Homo sapiens: one gene and its partner. The protein of the gene in region 1 purifies or fractionates together with the protein of each later gene. This does not show direct contact. Each region holds a gene or a part of one and is shown in the gene's direction. Other genes may lie near its edges.

The links.
Region 2: the proteins of GTSF1L (region 1) and THUMPD3 purify together in Homo sapiens (affinity purification with mass spectrometry; one large-scale study listed by BioGRID and IntAct). This does not show direct contact.

The regions. Positions count from the first base shown.
Region 1 is NC_000020.11:43,725,641-43,728,607, reverse strand, and holds GTSF1L (gametocyte-specific factor 1-like), read left to right. Parts: upstream 1-1,605; 5' UTR 1,606-1,913; coding exon 1,914-2,360; 3' UTR 2,361-2,444; downstream 2,445-2,967.
Region 2 is NC_000003.12:9,369,423-9,373,253, forward strand, and holds part of THUMPD3 (tRNA (guanine(6)-N(2))-methyltransferase THUMP3), read left to right. Parts: intron 1-1,637; coding exon 1,638-2,114; intron 2,115-3,831. UniProt on the Homo sapiens protein: Catalytic subunit of the THUMPD3-TRM112 methyltransferase complex, that specifically mediates the S-adenosyl-L-methionine-dependent N(2)-methylation of guanosine nucleotide at position 6 (m2G6) in tRNAs.

The DNA.
Region 1 (2,967 bases):
ACACCATAGCTAGGATGTGGAGAGATGGAAAAAGTGTCATTTACAATGACAAAAAAAAAAGAAAAAGAAAAAACCATAAAGCATCATAGATTAATTTTTTTTTAACGTGCAAAAAATAGAAAGAAAACTACAAAGCCTACCTGAAAAGACACCATCAATAGAGCTTAGTAAATACCAGGAAACACACACACACACATACACACACACACACTCACACACACACCTTCCCCAAGGTCACATGGCTGGTAAGTGGCAGGAGGTAGAATTTGAATACAGTCAGCTTCCTTAACCACCACCAAGAATAGGATGGGTGAGCTTTTTCTATAATGGGCCAGACAGAAAACATTAGAGGTTTCTAGGTCATCTGGATTCTGTTGCAACTACTCAAATCTAGCTCAAAAGCAGCCAATGGACAATATATAAACAAATGGGTGTGGCTGTGCTTCAATAAAACTTTATTTACAAAAGCAGATAGCCATCTGGATTTGAATCATGGGCCCATAGTTTGTTGACACATGATCTAGAATAACAAATCCTTGAAGATAGTCAAGGCTTTTGGGGGGAAAACTAATAACAAGCAGAGACTTGCTCTATCAGATATCAGCACATAAAGCTACAAAAATTATTTGGAATTGCATTATATTTATGTATCAATTTAGGATGACTATGTAATTTATGTAATTTAGTTTACAGAGAATATTCATTTATGATTTTGAGTCTTCCTATTCAGGAATATGGTATTTCTCTACTGTCACTCAGATCTTGAGAAACAATTTAACAGGGTGGGGGGTGGGAAGGAGCTCCAGGCCAATTTTTAGAAGAAATCCTACCTAACACCAGACATGTAAATAGAATGTCAGAGGACCAAAACCACTAACACCCTGAGATATGTGTCAATTGCGTCCATTCAGACTTTGGTCCAGTTCTGTGAGGGACAACGGCAGGGTCGACCTAAGATGGGGCGTTTTATAGGAAATGTTTCCCATGTTAAGCTGAACACCAAAAGGCTTCACCTTCTGCGATATATGAATAGATTTAAACCCTTCCCCCACACCCAAGGAGACTAGGCTGCTGTGGGCCTCAGCAGAGCAGAAGGGTAAAGAAAGACGGCCCTGAGAATCACATCCAAAAACCAGCCCTGGCAAAGCGCAGGGGCTCACACCTATCATCCCAGCACTTTGGGGGGCTGAGGCGGGTGGATCACCTGAGGTCAGGAGTTCAAGACCAGCCTGGCCAACATGGTGAAACCCGTCTCTACTAAAAATACAAAAAATTAGCCGGGCATGATGGCAGGTGCCTGTAATCCCAGCTACTCGGGAGCCTGAGGCAGGAGAATCACTTGAACCTGGGAGGCGGAGATTGCAGTGGGCCAAGATCGCACCACTGTACTCCAGCCTGGCAACAGAGCGAGACTCTGTCTCAAATAAAACAAAAACAAAAACAAAAAACAAATACGTACAGTTAAAAGACTTAAGTCACAACATACATCCATGAGCAATTTTAGATGGCAGCATTCCCAAAGCCATCCACCCCTCCCAAGCAGTGCACAATAGCCTCTTCCTGATGACTTAGGCTGCCCATTGTGACCACCGGTGACTGCAGCTTGACATCATAGTATATCCGTGAGTCAAGCGGCTGTGGGTTTTTGGCTCTTGCATCTGCTATAGTTCTGTCTCGGGTGCCATTTGCTAACTCTGTTCTCTGTGTAGCTGCTTTTGGCAGCTCCTCATCTCTCTTCTAATCCACCACTCACAGTCCTAGAGAACAGACCACAAGTTAAGACCGTCACCTACAGAATCCCAAGGGCCAAAACTGGGCAGAGGACAACTCCATCCTTCTTACAAAAGGGCTTCTCCACAAGAAGCATTTCCGTTAGACTCTAGCAGTGAGATACCCTGCTTCAAGAATTTCTCATGGAGCCAGAAGCCTTTGAAATTTGCCCTTATGATCCTCACCACCGAATCCCACTCAGCAGATTCCAGTACCACCTGGCATCGTGCAGGAGAAAGAACCCCAAGAAAGCCAAAAAGATGGCCACCTGCAAATACAACGCCTGCCACGTGGTCCCCATCAAAAATCTGGAGGAACATGAGGCTGTTTGTGTCAACAGGAGCGCTGTGGAAGAAGAGGACACCGAGAACCCTCTGAAAGTCAGTCCTCCTAGTTCAGAGCAGAACGATGACACCCAGCAGGTCTCACCCTGCCTTCCCAGCCCCGATATCTGGAATGTCGATGGCGCTAATTGCCAGCATGTGTTTGTCCTTAAGACTTTTTTTCCTCAAAAGGTTGTTTGTGAAAATGACACGAAAGAGTCAGCAAGAGAGACCAGTCCCCAGAAGATCCTCAGACCAGGACAGTAAACTGCCAGCTGAGGAAGGAGCACACGCCTCATCAATGCATGGAAGAACGTGCAATGCATCAGAATAAAAGACATGCAAAGTAAACTACCCTGGGCTACCTCTTTTTTTAACCTGGCAGATTGATAAATATCAAAAGGCTTAAAATACTCTGCTGGCAAAGGTAGGGCAAAATGGGCACTTTCATAACATTGGTGAGAATGTCAGTTGGTACAACCTCCACAGAGGGCAATTTGACAATAGCTATAAACATTATCAATGCATACAGGCTTTGATTGAGCAATTCCACTTCCAGGCTTCATTCTGTAAATATAATCACACATGTGGAAAATGAGCTAAGTACTAGCTTATTCACTGCAGCATTATTTGCAGCAGCAAAAGAGTTAGAAATGAGCCAGGTGTGTTGAATCACAGCTGTAGCCTGTTACTCTGGGAGCTGAGGCGAGAGGATCGCTTGAGTTCAGCCTGGGCAACATAGTGAGATCCTGTCTTAAGCAACAAAAAAAAAAGTCAAAAATGACCTAAATATCCATTAAAAGGGCCTGATTAAAAATAAGTTATACTGCAGCCATACAACAAAATATTATGCCGCCTTAAAAAAAGTGAGGAA
Region 2 (3,831 bases), on another chromosome or scaffold:
AATTTTATATGATTTTTAAAATAATTTATACATGAAACAAAGTTTGTGTACACTGAACCATCAGAAAGCAAAGGTGTCACTATCTCAGCTACCTGTGTGGCATCATGTTGGCACTTCAAAAAAATTTTAGGTTTTGGATTTTGGACTTTGAGATTAGGAATGTTCAACCTATATGTTGGAGATCCTGGCAGTATCATTGCTGGAATTGGCTGCGTATACTCCATTGTTTGGCTGTATAATAATTTAACCAGTCCCATTTTAGGGCATGAGGGTTTTTCACATTCTTTTGCTATTACAGTGGTGCAACAAATACACTATGTAAATTCTTGTACATATTCAAACTGAGTGTCATCTTTGTGTTTATCCCATTGATACTTATTGATAATGACAACTGTTTAGTCTTAGTTTTGTCATGCTCATACTTTTTGTTTTTTCTTAATTTGAAAAATCTTTACATTATGTCTTTACTTTTTTCATATGCCTGTGTTTTCTAATAGTTTGGAAGGTTTATGTGTGTGTGTTCTAGCTGTTACCTTTATAACTACAATTTGATATTATCTACCTTATCTACCATATATACACGGTATTTTTTGAATCCCTGCTAAAAGCAATGATGAAATTGGCATATTTATACTTTTTTCCTTTATTTTTCAGTTATTTTTCTTAGTGTTCACCCTTAAACTTTTAAATATACTTACATTTTATTTATCAGCTTTAACTTCTATCCTTTGACCTCTGGGTGTAAGAGATGAGGGTATCAGTATGCCCATTTACATGCCAGTTTGTAACATTTACCTTCTGCTTTATAATCACAATCCCTACACTTGTTTTCATTTTAGTGATATAATTAAATAGATTATAGGCACATTATTTGTCCTTTTGTTATAATTTGTATCTGTTGAATGGCATGAGTTCAGAAATGTTTGTCTTTCACCTTTATATTTGGCTGATAGTTTGGGTATAAAATTTGGAGTTAGGCTTTCTTTCCTTAAGAATATTGTAGTCAGTGTTCATTCTCTTTTGTAAAAGATTTATTTTTTTAGACAAGATCTTGCTCTGTTGTCTAAGCTGGAGTGCATTGGCGTGATCATAGCTCATTGGAGCCTTGACCTCCCAGGCTCAAGCAGTCCTCCCATCTCAGCTTCCTGAGTAGCTGGGACTACAGGCACGTGCCACCATGCCCAGTTAATTTTTGTATTTTTTTGTGGAGACAGAGTTTTGCCATGTTGCCCAGTCTGGTCTCAAACTCCTAAGTTCAAGTGATCCACTTGCTTCAGCTTCCTAAAGTGCTGGGATTACAGGCATGAGCCACCATATCCAGCCCAGACTTTTTTTCTTGTCATTATTTCCCAAACAATACAGTATAACAACTATTTCCATAGCATTTACATTGTATCAGGTATCATAGGTAAGATAGAGATGATTTAAGTTACTCTTGAGAGGATGTGTGTAGGTCATATGTAGACACTATACCATTTTATATGAGGGACTTTTGAGCATCTTTGGGTTTTGGTGTCTTTGGCGGTCCTGGAACCAGTGTCCCCCACGGATACCAACTGTCCATAAGCAAAGTAGAGGTTTATTTGTTTGATTATAGTGGTGAGAAATGAATGAATTTCTTTCTCTGTCCTTTACAGGAAGAAGTTCTAAAGGATTTTGAAGACTTGGCTGGAAAACTCCCATGGTCAAACCCCTTAAAAGTGTGGAAAATTAATGCCAGTTTTAAAAAGAAAAAAGCAAAGCGCAAAAAGATAAATCAGAATTCAAGTAAAGAGAAGATTAATAATGGACAAGAAGTCAAAATCGATCAGAGAAATGTTAAAAAAGAGTTCACTAGCCATGCTTTAGATTCTCATATCTTAGATTATTATGAAAATCCAGCCATCAAAGAGGATGTATCAACATTAATAGGTGATGATTTGGCATCTTGCAAAGATGAGACTGATGAAAGCTCAAAAGAAGAAACTGAGCCTCAAGTGCTGAAGTTTAGAGTCACATGCAACAGGGCAGGAGAGAAACATTGCTTTACCTCAAATGAGGCTGCAAGAGATTTTGGGGGTGCTGTTCAAGATTATTTTAAGTGGAAGGCCGACATGACCAACTTTGATGTGGAGGTAGGTATAGGCTCTGACTGTGGTGATTGAAGAATGCTGTCACAGATTTGTAGAATTTCCAGACTAACCCAATGTTATGCACAATTAAACTGAGGAAATAGTAGGGTGTGGTTAAGAAGAGCATAGGCTATGGAGACAGATTTAGATCCAAATTTTAACTCCACAACTGTATAACTTTGGACTAGATAGTCTCTGAGCCTCTGTTTCAAATGGAGCCAATAATATTATGTACCTTTAAGGTTATCCTGAAGGATAAATGAGGTACATTTAAAATATTTGGTGCAATACCTTGCATACACTAAGTGCTCCATAGATGGAAGCCATCAAGGTTGAGTTGTCTGTTTTCTTTTTCTTTTTCGAGACAGAGTCTTGCTCTGTCACCCAGGCTAGAGTGCAGTGGTACGATCTCAGCTCACTGCAGCCTCCACCTTCCTGGTTCAAGTGATTCTTGTGCTCAGCCTCCCAAGTAGCTGGGGCTACAGGCACATGCCACCACACCTGGCTAATTTTTGTATTTTTTAATAGACATGGGGTTTCACCCTGTTGGCCAGGCTGGTCTCAAACTCCTGTAGTGATCTGCCTGTCTTGGCCTCCCAAAGTGCTGGGATTATAGCTGCACCTGGCCTGATTTCTAATAGACTACTCTTTTACTATATTATATGGACTTTCATATTATAAAATTCAACCAGAATTAAAATAGTTATTTTGTTTTTGTGTGTCTTGGTTGCAGAGCTTTGCTACTGAAAAAATAAAATAAGGCTGGGCGCAGTGGCTCACGCCTGTAATCCCAGCACTTTGGGAGGGAGGCCGAGGCAGGTGGATCACTTGAGGTCAGGAATTTGAGACCAGCGTGGCCAATATGGTGAAACCCTGTCTCTACTAAAAATACAAAAATTGGCCCGTCATGATGGCACACTCCTGTGGTCCCAGCTACTGGGGAGGCTGAGGCAGGAGAATCACTTGAACCAGGGAGGTGGAGGTTGCAGTGAGCCAAGATCATGCCACTGCACTTCAGCGTGGGTGACAGAGCAAGACTCCATCTCCAAAAAAAAAAAAAGTGCATTTTTTAAACAAACCCTGACCTTCTCAAACCAGGACATCATTGCTAATACTCATCCTAGAGTCAGCTCTCCTCTTTCTTAAATTCTGCTAGATTTCCAAAGCCAGGTACCTCATTTTAGTATATTTACTTTCCTTGGTCTTAATCCTCTTTTATCTGGGTGATTGACATGTGAACCATAGGAACTAAAGTATTTAAGTCTCTGACACCTTAAAACATCTCTAGCAGCTGATATATTTACCAAAGAGTCAATTTCCGTTGCTTTTGGGACACTTGAATCTGGGGCAAGTCACTGATTCTAACTTTTTTGTGCATGTCAAATCAGGAGTCTAATTCCCCATTCCTTTTTTTCCTCATACACTGCCTTGCAAATGAATACGTGGCTCACACCTGTAATTCCAGTACTTTGGGAGGCCTTGGCAGGCAGATCGCTTGAGCCCAAGAATTTGAGACCAGCCTGGGCAAAATAGTGAGACCCTGTCTCCACTAAAAATAAAATAAATATTTTAAAAAATAAAATGAATAGGTTAACCAGAACAGTGATGTCTAAAAGTTAGCAAGGTGATTCAGAGGAGTTTCTGGAGCCGTGCTGCATTGGTTTAAATCCCAGAGGAGGCTGGGTGTGGTGACACACACCTGTAATCCCAGCACTTTGGG